3 linked regions of the Homo sapiens genome follow. Changing the gene in region 1 together with any one later gene gives a genetic interaction. Each region holds a gene or a part of one and is shown in the gene's direction. Other genes may lie near its edges.

Evidence for each region. Genes that interact genetically often act in the same process or in processes that back each other up.
Region 2: changes in CKM (region 1) and XIAP together harm fitness more than expected from each alone (negative genetic interaction), as found in Homo sapiens cells (one large-scale study listed by BioGRID).
Region 3: changes in CKM (region 1) and ACVR1 together harm fitness less than expected from each alone (positive genetic interaction), as found in Homo sapiens cells (one large-scale study listed by BioGRID).

Annotation. Positions count from the first base shown.
Region 1 is NC_000019.10:45,312,047-45,317,670, reverse strand, and holds part of CKM (creatine kinase M-type), read left to right. Parts: intron 1-2,073; coding exon 2,074-2,206; intron 2,207-5,624. UniProt on the Homo sapiens protein: Reversibly catalyzes the transfer of phosphate between ATP and various phosphogens (e.g. creatine phosphate).
Region 2 is NC_000023.11:123,908,553-123,912,052, forward strand, and holds part of XIAP (E3 ubiquitin-protein ligase XIAP), read left to right. Parts: 3' UTR 1-3,500.
Region 3 is NC_000002.12:157,869,831-157,873,330, reverse strand, and holds part of ACVR1 (activin receptor type-1 precursor), read left to right. Parts: intron 1-3,500. UniProt on the Homo sapiens protein: Bone morphogenetic protein (BMP) type I receptor that is involved in a wide variety of biological processes, including bone, heart, cartilage, nervous, and reproductive system development and regulation.

The DNA of each region.
Region 1 (5,624 bases):
GCGAGCGTATCACTTGAGGTCAGGAGTTCAAGACCAGCCTGGCCAACATGGCAAAACTCTGTCTTTAAAAAAAAAAAAAAGGGCTGGGCACGGCGGTGGCTCACGCCTGTAATCCCAGCACTTTGGGAGGCCAAGGCGGGCAGATCACCTTAGATTGAGAGTTTGAGACCAGCCTGACCAACATGGTGAAACCCCGTCTCTACTAAAAATACAGAATTAGCTGGGTGTGGTGGCACATGCCTGTAATCCCAGCTACGTGGGAGGCTGAGGCAGGAGAATCGCTTGAACCTGGAAGGCAGAGGTTGTGGTGAGCAGAGATCGTGCCATTGCACTCCAGCCTGGGCAACAAGGGCGAAACTCGTCTCAAAAAATAAATAAATAAATAAATAAAATAAATTAGCTGGGCATGGTGGCGCGTGCCTGTAATCCCAGCTACTCAGGAGGTGGAGGCAGGAAAATCTCTTGAACCCAGGAGATGGAGGCTGCAGTGAGCTGAGATCATGCCACTGCACTCCAGCCTGGGTGACAGAGCAAGATTCTATCTCAGAAAATAAAAAAAGGAAAGAGAGAGGGACAGAGAGACACAGAGACAGCCAAGGAGACACAGACAACCAAGGAGACAGACAGACAAAGGAGAGGGAGAGGGAGAAGAAAGGCACAAAAGCATGTAGAAAAGGAAGAGGCATAGCCGGGCACAGTGGCTCACGCTTGTAATCCCAACACTTTGGGAGGCTGAGGTGGGCGGATCATAAGGTCAGGAGTTCGAGACCAGCCTGACCAACACGGTGAAACCCAGTCTCTATTAAAAATACAAAAATTAGCTAGGCATGCTGGTGTTCACCTATAATCCTAGCTATTCAGCCTGGGTGACAGAGCGAGACTCTGCCTAAAAAAAAAAGGGTGGGGGGAGAGGCAGAGACACAGAGGGAGACAGAAGGGAGCATCAGAGAAGGCAGGAGAGACAGGGAGAGAGAGACACACGCAGTTGCAGTCAGACACAGACAAGGAGAGTGGGAGAAAGGGAGACAGGAAGAGAAACAGAAATGGGCAGAAAGGCTGGGTGCAGTGGCTATACCTGTAATCCCAGCACTTATGGAGGCTGAGGTGTGAGGATCACGTGAAGCCAGGAGAGTTCACGACCAGCTTGGGCAACATAGCAAGAACCCGTCTCTGCCCAAAAAAAAGAAAAAAAAAAGCCTAAAAATTTAGCTAGGCATGGTGGCTCATGCCTGTAATCCCATCACGTTGGGAGGCTGAGGCAGGAGGACTGTTTGAGCCCAGGAGTTTGAGACCAGCCTGGGCAACATAGTGACACCCTGTCTCTATTTTTTTTTTTTTTTTGAGACAGAATCTCACTCTGTCACCCAGGTTGGAGTGCAGTGGCTCGATCTCAGCTCACGGAAACCCCTGATCCCCAGGTTCAAGTGATTCTCGTGCCTCAGCCTCCTGAGTAGCTGGGATTACAGGCGCGCACCACCACGCCCAGCTAATTTTTGTATTTTTAGTAGAAATGGGGTTTCACCATGTTGGCCAAGCTGGTTTCGAACTCCTGACCTCAGGTGATTGGCTCACCTCGGCTTCCCAAAGTGTTGGGATTACAGGTGTGAGCCACCGCGCCCAGCCCCTGTCTCTATTTATAAAAAATTTATTTTAAGTTAGCCGAACATGGTGGCATATACCTACCTGTTAGTCCCAGCTACTTGGGAGGCTGAGGCAGGGGAATTGCTTGAGCCCAGGAGTTTGAGGTTGCAGTGAGCTATGATGGCACCACTGCACTCCAGCCTGGGCGACAGAGAGAGACCCTGTCTCGAAGAAAAAAAAGGAAAAGAAATATACGAAGATGGGGAGAGAGAGGTATAAAGAAAAACAGAGATAGGAGAGGGGAGAGAGACAGAGAAGGGAGAGACAGAGCCCAGGTATGGGTGGCGGGGAGAGGCTCCACACACCCAATCAGTGAGGATGCAGAAGGCAAAGGAAGCAACAGGGAGACTGAGGGGAGCATCTGGGGGAGACCTGGGCTTGCTGGAGAGGGCGGAGGATCTGCCTGGTCCTGATCTCCCACCCGCTCTCCAGGGTGGAGACGACCTGGACCCTAACTACGTGCTCAGCAGCCGCGTCCGCACTGGCCGCAGCATCAAGGGCTACACGTTGCCCCCACACTGCTCCCGTGGCGAGCGCCGGGCGGTGGAGAAGCTCTCTGTGGAAGGTGAGCGCCCCTACCCCGTCCACTGCTGGGGTCACCCAGCCCTGGCTCTGTTCCTCCATGGGCAGGTCCTCGGGTCTCTTTGGGCCCCCGCTTTTCAAAGTAGGGGAAGAGCTTGGTAAATCGTGGGGGCTTGGGGAATGGCGCGGGCTGTCAGCATTACCTGCTGTGTTGGAGATTCAGGGATGCTGTCCAGACCCGACGGCCCCTGAGAAGACCTACGCAGACACCTGGCTGCCCCCAGCGTCCTGCCATCCGTTCATCCAGCACACATTTCCAGGGGTTCTTGCCCTGTGTGGGGAGATAGGGGTCCCTCACTGTTCTCACAGAGTGTTCAGCTGGTGGGGAGACAAGAGGAAATACAGAAACCCACAGATGAACAAGATAATTCAAAAGTGCCATGAAGCCAAGACATGGGTGTGGTGGAGAATGACCGAGGGGAGCCACCTCAGATAGGAGGAGTTGAGGCCGGGCACAGTGGCTCCCACAGCAGTGCGGGAGGCCTAGGAGGGAGGGTCGCTTGAGCCCAGGAGTTCAAGACCAGACTGGGCAATACAGCAAGACCCTGTCTCTACAAAAAAGACAAAAATGAGCCAGGAGTGGTGGCACACACCTGTCATCCCAGCTACTCAGGAGACTGAGGTGGGAGGATCACTTGAGCCCGGGAGGTTGAGGCTGCAGTGAATCGTGATTGTGCCACTGCACTCCAGCCAGGGTGACAGAGTGAGAACCTGCCTCAAAAACAAATAAAAAGAGGCCAGGCACAGTGGCTCACACCGTAATCCCAGCATTTTGGGAAGCTGAGGCAGGTGGATCATTTGAGGTCAGGAGTTTGAGACCAGCCTGGCCAACATGGTAAAACCCCATCTCTACTAAAAATACAAAAATCAGCTGGGTCTGGTGGCACACACCTGTAATCCCAGCGACTTGGGAGACTGAGGCAGGAGAATCGCTTGAACCTGGGAGGCAGAGGTTGCAGTGAGCTGAGATCACGCCACTGCACTCCAGCCTGGGGGACAGAGTGTGACTCCATCTCAAAAAAAAAAGTTATGTTTATCCTATACTGTAGTCTGTTAAGTGCACAATAGCATTATGTCTAGAAAAAAAAAAGTACATACCTTAATTTTAAAATCCTGCTAAAAATGTTGTGATCATTTGAGGACTCAGCAAGTTGGAACCTTTCTGTTGTGTAGGGCCTTGCCTTGATGTTGATGGGCTGCTGACTGATCAGGGCGGTTGTCGTTCAAGGTTGAGATGGCTGCGGCAATTCCTTCCTTCCTTCCTTCCTTCCTTTCCTTTCTTTTCTTCCTCCCTTCCTTCCCTTCCTTCCCTCCCTCCCTTCCTTCCCTTCCCTTCCCTTTTCTTCTCCGTCCTTCCTTCCTTCCTTCTTTCCTCCCTCCCTTCCTCCCTTCCTTCCTTCCTTCTCTTTCTCTCTCTCTTTTCAAGACAGGGTCTTGTTCTGTTGCCCAGCTGGAATGCAGTGGTGCAATCATGACTTACCATAACCTCCAACTCCTGGGCTTAAGTGATCCTCCCATGTTGGTCTCCCAAAGTGCTGGCATTACAGGTGTGAGCCACAGTGCCTGGCCAGCAGTAATAGTTTGAAAAGAATCTCTTTTTTGAGATGGAGCCACACTCTTGTCGCCCAGGCTGGAGTGCAGTGGTGCAATCTTGGCTTACTGTTACCTCCACCTCGTGGTTCAAGCAATTCTCGTGTCTCAGCCACCCAAGTAGCTGAGATCACCGGCATGCGCCACCACGCCTGGCTAATTTTTGTATTTTTAGTAGAATCGGGGTTTCGCCATCTTGGCCAGGCTGGTCTCAAACTCCTGATCTCAGGTGATCTGCCTGCCTCAGCCTCCCAAACCACTAGGATTACAGGCGTGAGCCACCGCACCTGGCCTATGAAGCTTTTTATTTAAAGTGAAAAATGTTGACTCTTCCTTTCACTTGAACACCTCGAGGCCATTGTAAGGTTATGAACTGAATTGGCCTGATTTCAAAATCATGTGTCTCAGGGAATACGGAGGCTCAAGGAGATGGGGAGAGATGAGGGAATGGCTGGTCAGTGGGGCAGTCCGAGCACACACATTTATCCATTAAGTTCACCCTTTTATATGGGCAAGGTCGGTGGCACCCCCCAAAATTAAAACAGTAACATCAGAGATCACTGATCACGGATCGCCATGACAGATATAGTAATAATGAGAAAGTCTGCAGTACTGTGAGAATTACCCACATGTGACACAGAGACACGAAGTGGCACATGCTGTAGGAAAAATGGCTCCAATAGACCTGCTGGACAAAGAGTTGCCACAAACCTCCAATTTGTAAAAAACACAGTATCTGCAAAATGCAATAAAACGAGGTATGTCTGTATATTATATGAATATGTATAAGATATATAAATATTATAGATTTATTGTACATATGCACAAACACAAATTCATTATACACATATTTTATACATGAATATACAAATAAACACACAATTTTTTTTCTTTTTTTTTTTTTTAGACAGAATCTCACTCTGTCACCCAGGCTGGAGTGCAGTGGCAAAATCTCAGCTCACTGCAACCTCCACCTCTTGGGTTCAAGTGTTTCTCGTGCCTCAGCCTCTTGAGTAGCTGGGATTACAGGCGTGTGCCACCATGGCCGACTAATTTTTGTATTTTTAGTGGAGACGGGGTTTCACCATGTTGGCCAGGCTGGTCTCAAAATCCTGACCTCAAGTGATCTGCCTGCCTTGGCCTCCCAAAGTGCTGGGATTATAGGCATGAGCCACTGCGCCCAGCCTACAATTTTTTTTTTTTTAAAGATTGGGGTCTTGGGCCAGGCGCCCAAGTGGAGAAACCCCGTCTCTACTAAAAATACAAAATTAGCCGGGCATGGTGGCGCATGCCTGTAATCCCAGGTACTTGAGAGGCTGAGGCAAGAGATTCGCTTGAACCCGGGAGACGGAGGTGGCAGTGAGCCAAGATCGCGCCATTGCGCTCCAGCCTGGGCAACAAGAGCAAAACTCCGTCTCATAAAAAAAAAAAAAAAAGATGGGGGTCTTGCTATGTTACCCAGACTGGACTCGAACTCCTGGGCTTAAGTGATCCTCCTGCCTCAGCCTCCCCAGTATCTGGACTACAGGCTCGTGCCAGTGCACCTGGCTACCATTCTACTTTATAATAATTTTTACTAATGGCCTCTCAAAGTCCTGAGACTTCAGCCATCTGTGTTGCCAGCCATTAGGAGCAGGCACCAGCACACTGTGGCCTGCAGGTGGATTGGATGTGAGGGTCCCTCAGGGGAAGAGGTGGGTCTGTTTTCCAGATTGAGCACATGGGGTGGCCATTCCTGGGGGCCTGGACAGATGGCAGGAACAGATTTTGGGGAGCCGTCACAAGTGTGGGTTTAGACACAGGGTTCAGGT
Region 2 (3,500 bases), on another chromosome or scaffold:
AGTTTCATGTGAGTTTTTACCGTTAGGATGATTAAGATGTATATAGGACAAAATGTTAAGTCTTTCCTCTACCTACATTTGTTTTCTTGGCTAGTAATAGTAGTAGATACTTCTGAAATAAATGTTCTCTCAAGATCCTTAAAACCTCTTGGAAATTATAAAAATATTGGCAAGAAAAGAAGAATAGTTGTTTAAATATTTTTTAAAAAACACTTGAATAAGAATCAGTAGGGTATAAACTAGAAGTTTAAAAATGCTTCATAGAACGTCCAGGGTTTACATTACAAGATTCTCACAACAAACCTATTGTAGAGGTGAGTAAGGCATGTTACTACAGAGGAAAGTTTGAGAGTAAAACTGTAAAAAATTATATTTTTGTTGTACTTTCTAAGAGAAAGAGTATTGTTATGTTCTCCTAACTTCTGTTGATTACTACTTTAAGTGATATTCATTTAAAACATTGCAAATTTATTTTATTTATTTAATTTTCTTTTTGAGATGGAGTCTTGCTTGTCACCCAGGCTGGAGTGCAGTGGAGTGATCTCTGCTCACTGCAACCTCCGCCTTCTGGGTTCAAGCGATTCTCGTGCCTCAGCTTCCTGAGTAGCTGGAATTACAGGCAGGTGCCACCATGCCCGACTAATTTTTTTTTATTTTTAGTAGAGACGGGGTTTCACCATGTTGGCCAGGCTGGTATCAAACTCCTGACCTCAAGAGATCCACTCGCCTTGCCCTCCCAAAGTGCTGGGATTACAGGCTTGAGCCACCACGCCCGGCTAAAACATTGCAAATTTAAATGAGAGTTTTAAAAATTAAATAATGACTGCCCTGTTTCTGTTTTAGTATGTAAATCCTCAGTTCTTCACCTTTGCACTGTCTGCCACTTAGTTTGGTTATATAGTCATTAACTTGAATTTGGTCTGTATAGTCTAGACTTTAAATTTAAAGTTTTCTACAAGGGGAGAAAAGTGTTAAAATTTTTAAAATATGTTTTCCAGGACACTTCACTTCCAAGTCAGGTAGGTAGTTCAATCTAGTTGTTAGCCAAGGACTCAAGGACTGAATTGTTTTAACATAAGGCTTTTCCTGTTCTGGGAGCCGCACTTCATTAAAATTCTTCTAAAACTTGTATGTTTAGAGTTAAGCAAGACTTTTTTTCTTCCTCTCCATGAGTTGTGAAATTTAATGCACAACGCTGATGTGGCTAACAAGTTTATTTTAAGAATTGTTTAGAAATGCTGTTGCTTCAGGTTCTTAAAATCACTCAGCACTCCAACTTCTAATCAAATTTTTGGAGACTTAACAGCATTTGTCTGTGTTTGAACTATAAAAAGCACCGGATCTTTTCCATCTAATTCCGCAAAAATTGATCATTTGCAAAGTCAAAACTATAGCCATATCCAAATCTTTTCCCCCTCCCAAGAGTTCTCAGTGTCTACATGTAGACTATTCCTTTTCTGTATAAAGTTCACTCTAGGATTTCAAGTCACCACTTATTTTACATTTTAGTCATGCAAAGATTCAAGTAGTTTTGCAATAAGTACTTATCTTTATTTGTAATAATTTAGTCTGCTGATCAAAAGCATTGTCTTAATTTTTGAGAACTGGTTTTAGCATTTACAAACTAAATTCCAGTTAATTAATTAATAGCTTTATATTGCCTTTCCTGCTACATTTGGTTTTTTCCCCTGTCCCTTTGATTACGGGCTAAGGTAGGGTAGAGTGGGTGTAGTGAGTGTATATAATGTGATTTGGCCCTGTGTATTATGATATTTTGTTATTTTTGTTGTTATATTATTTACATTTCAGTAGTTGTTTTTTGTGTTTCCATTTTAGTGGATAAAATTTGTATTTTGAACTATGAATGGAGACTACCGCCCCAGCATTAGTTTCACATGATATACCCTTTAAACCCGAATCATTGTTTTATTTCCTGATTACACAGGTGTTGAATGGGGAAAGGGGCTAGTATATCAGTAGGATATACTATGGGATGTATATATATCATTGCTGTTAGAGAAATGAAATAAAATGGGGCTGGGCTCAGTGGCTCACGCCTGTAATCCCAGCACTTTGGGAGGCTGAGGCAGGTGGATCACGAGGTCAGGAGATCGAGACCATCCTGGCTAACACGGTGAAACCCCGTCTCTACTAAAAAACAGAAAATTAGCCGGGCGTGGTGGCGGGCGCCTGTAGTCCCAGCTACTCGGGAGGCTGAGGCAGGAGAATGGTGTGAACCCGGGAGGCAGAGCTTGCAGTGAGCCGAGATCTCGCCACTGCACTCCAGCCTGGGCAACAGAGCAAGACTCTGTCTCAAAAAAAAAAAAAAAAGAAATAAGAAAATGGGAAGCAATATTTGACATAGTTCTTTTTAGTCAAATCTACTTGTTAAAAAAAGGGTAGCAGTTTATTCATCTGTGAAAGGAAAATAATACTTATCTTACAAGGTTGCAAGAGCTCAAGGAGACCATGTATGTAAAGTTCCTGCTGTAAATATGAACTCCCATCCTAATACCCTTTTACCTCTCTGTGGGTTTGTCTTGACCTGGAAATTTGGGCTAAAACTTAGAAAAAATTCTTACATGATAACTCAGTGATGCTTACTCATAGTTTTTGGTGTTTCTCATAGATAAGATATAAATCAGCTGGGCGCGGTGGCTCATGCCTGTAATCCCAGCACTTTGGGAGGCCGAGGCGGGCAGATCACCTGAGGTCGGGAGGTCGAGACCAGCCTGACCAACATGGAGAAACCCCGTCTCTACTAAAAATACAAAATTAGCTGGGCGTGGTGGCTCATGCCTGTAATCCCAGCTACTTGGGAGGCTGAGGCAGGAGAATCGCTTGAACCCAGGAGGCGGAGGTTGTGGTGAGCGAAGATCGTGCCATTGCACTCCAGCCTGGGCAACAAGAGCAAAACTCTGTCTCAAAAAAAAAAAAAGATATAAATCACAATAAATAAATAGGTCAATACAAATGTTAGCCAGGCGTGGTGGCACATGCCCATAGTCGCAGCTACTCTGGAGGCAGAGGCAGGAGGATCACTTGAGCCCATGAATTTGAGGCAGCAGTGAGCTATGATTGTGCCACTGTACTCCAGTCTGGGTGACAGAGTGAGACCCCATCTCTAAATAAATAGGTCAAACCCTTAAAAATATTTAAATTCTTAAAAAATTGAAAAGATTATTCTTCTCAAATTTAGTTGAGCTTTCTAAGAGAAGCAATTGGCTTTTTCCCACTTCAATAATCATTTTCAGTTTGACTCATACAGTTAACACAATGTGAATTTCTTCCTCAGCATAACAGAGTTATAGAATGACAGGGCTGGAAGTGACCTTAGAGAGTATCCAGTTCTTTCATTTTACAGGTGAGGCAACTGAGACTCAAAGGTGATGTAATTTGTGCAAAGATTATAGCTAATTAGTAGCAGAGCCCTGACTGGGACATAGTTTGAAGGTGAAAAACTTCACCAAGCTACCTTTCTTGAAAGGTCCAAATGTTTA
Region 3 (3,500 bases), on another chromosome or scaffold:
AAACACCATATGTCTTATTATTATTTTACCGTCCTACAATAAGAAATTGAGGCTTGGCAAATTTCAGTGGTAGAATGGGGATTTGAACCAGAGGTCTGCAGGACTTCAGAACTCATGTTCTTGGCCACTTTTGCCAGTGATTGTCAAAGTTCATTCACTCACATACTGTCTTCCTGAGTTTACCATGGCTGAGTCCCACTTACTCTATTAATATTTTTCTTTAAAGCAATGATTCACTTAAAGAAAAGAACCTAAAGACATCATTTTTTTGAGAGGAAATTATGTATTACTACCATATTTGGAAAGCCAACTCACTTGTTAGGAATAGGAGGTAGTCATAAATATGCGTTTGTACTTGCACCGAAACCCCAACTTCAGAATAATGATTATGTGGAGTGTGTGTATGTTGCAGGGACCTGGAATAAAAATGGAGGAAGTAGGTAGATGATACAGTGTTGGTGATGTTCTGGTTTTTGGATTGGGTGATGGGTTCATAGGTGCTGATTTTATTTTTAGACTTTATAACCTACATACACAATACATTTTTTCTAAAATGATAAAGAAAATTAAACACATAACCATTAACATAATGATTACTTAGGGAATATTTTACTGCACTATGCTGACTATAGATTTAGCTTGGTGCCTTGTTTGCAGTGGGCACACAGTAACTACTGGCTGATCGATAAGACCCCAGGAAATAATTGTAAAGCAAGCTCATTGTTTGTTATATTTGAATAAGGTTGAGGTATGTCCCCCTCCTCCCCTATTTTCTCCTGCTTCTACTCTCCTTTCCAATATTGCAACTAAATAGTGTGGGCTGCAGTGAGGTTTCACCTGGCTGTAGTTATGGGAGACACAGGCTGGGCTGAAGCTAGCACTTTTCAGCATCACCTTGTCTTATATATCTAGCACTTGGGATGGGGCAAAGAATACTGTCATGAAGTGTTAAGACACCTTCCTTTTTACCCAGTAGTAAGGTGTGACCATTCAGAGCTGGAAGCAGTATTTAAGTTAAAGCAGGGCCTGGATGAAATGTTAACAACATTAAACTGGTGAGGCTGGGAAATAAAGCCATCAGAAATTTTAATTGGAATCCGCAGAATCTCCTGTTTTATTTTCCCAAGCAAGCACCGGGCACTGTGGCTTTATTCCTGGAAATGAGGATTTGGAATTGGGTTTCCTGGTACAAAATACCTTCTTTGATCTTTTGGAGTGAAAACTTTGTGTTTCTTTCTGTGGCCAATTCCAGCTCTCAGAAGAACCAAATGGAAGATTTACCTCCTCATTTTTAGCAGTTGGCCATAGAATGCTCTTGCTTGCCATGTTAAGTTTAAGAATCAGAAGTTCTAAACTAGGGTTTGTCTGTTGGAAGGACATTCAAATGAAAGACTCCTTTTGAAAGAGCCTCATCAGTTTGGTGTGGTTGGCACATCACAGCCTTTGGTTCAGATGGGAGGTAGTTTTGCTTGAACTCACACTCTCAAAATTAACTAATAAGATATTCGGCAGCTTCCTTTTCTGAGTTAACACAAATACACCCTCTGCCCCTAATATTCAAACTAACCACACATTCGAATACTATTCCTGTGCGCTTCTAGGCAGTTCTGGAAATGTGAGATTGTTTATATGTATAAAGGCTCTTATGTGATCCATCAGAGCTTTGTTTTCCAGAGCCACGGCTATTCAGTTGTTTGATTTTTGGGTTTCACTCTCTGACCAACATTCCACTTTGCCCATTAGAGTTACTTCATTGTTGACTCTGGGTATTTGGCCTTTATTTCTGTGACTGGGAAAGTAACTTTAAATTTCAGTCTTCCTAAATTTTGTGGAGGTTTGTGCAGTAGGTGAAAGTTGTTTTGAAGAGGGGGATGGGGTGAGACCACTTTTAGCATAAGTGTCCTGAGGGATCACCCAAGGTCAGTTCTCATTCATCTTGAGGCCAAACCCTGGCTGTTCTGGTCTCTGCATTGCCCCTCACTCCCCTCCTTTTTGGGGGACCCAGATTCTTCAAGGCTCAGAGTAATCTTACTGCAAGCAAGAATGCTTTCTGGATTTTGCCATTTTGCCTTTCGACAGTCTCCTAGGTTTTATCATCCCCATTTCTTATTCTGGGATGTGATTGATCTCTTTGAGGGCAAGGACTTCAAGTTGTTCATTCCTCCATTGATTCTTTCTACACAAGTCATTGCTCTTCACCAACTTAAAACCTTTCAAATTCTCTCCCTGGGCTCCTTGAGGCAAGGGACTGTCTTATTCATCTTTTGTGTAACTTTTGCACCTAACACAATGCCTGGCCTAGACCACACAGTCAATAAATTGTTTTTGAATTGCCGAGAGAATGAATGGATGATTGCATATTAAGGGAGCAAAGGGACCTAGTCTTCTAGGGAACCAGGGAGATTGCTGACAAGATGATACCAGTCACTGTGGTCCGTAAGGATGAGTTTGGAAAGTGGGGACGAAAGACATTCTATGTAGAAGGAACTGCTTTTGATACCTCTTCTCAGTGCTTAATGTTGTAACCTGTGCTTAGTCAATTCCACAAACATTTATTGTGTTCTTTTCAGCATATGTTTCTTTCTTTCTTTTTATATTTAAGAGTGATGCTTCCATTTTTGAGAAGAATATCTCACTAATTTTTTATATCCCACAGAGCAGGGAATCCTTCATTATTTATAGTTAGGACCCAGACACTCAGTGAATCAATTACTTTACTCTTGACTTTTTCCTGTTGCATATGTTTCCAAACAGTTGACAGTGAAAACGTAGTGGTGGGCCATGCTTATGTGAGAGGTGGAAAAATGTAGGTGACCTCTTTGGAAAATGGGTGGAATCCAAAGTAAACTCCTCTTTTGAGAGATTTTTAAGGGCTGAAATCAGTGGACATACCACATATAACTTTTCATCTTGAATACTTGATGGGTGTGTGCTTTTGCTCATCTATGAAAGCCAAGATTGGCTATTAATATCACCATGCCATCGAAAAGCAAGATTACTTTGATTTGGGGGATTCCGTTTTAGCCAGTTCTGGAAGAATATTGATAGGCCCTCCAAAATATAACCTTGAACTTTAGAAATGTACAGAGGGGAGAACGAAGGTGGGGTGATCTTGGGCAAAGTTGGATATTAGAAATGGGACGATACTTGAGAGTTTGGAACGTGGGTACTGAGGAAAATGTGCAATAAGAAGAACTTGAGAAAAAGCATTCTGGAATAGAAGGGATGGGTTGAGTGATGTTTTAAACCAAGTTCCGAAACTTCCACTATTGCAGCTATTGATGAGTGTTGGCTACGCTTGGGGTGAAAGTAAGATGTGCTTGATTTACTCTCTGTAAGTAGTGAGTTAATGCATATAAGCAAACATGACCATAAAGGCAGGAGCTTAGGGATGAATATCCCTTGTCTTGATGTCAGGGACTTACACAAGATAGAAATATGCATAGGAGTGAAAGTGTAGGTGGTTATCTAGAGTGACACCTTCCTTTTCAGGAGTAAGG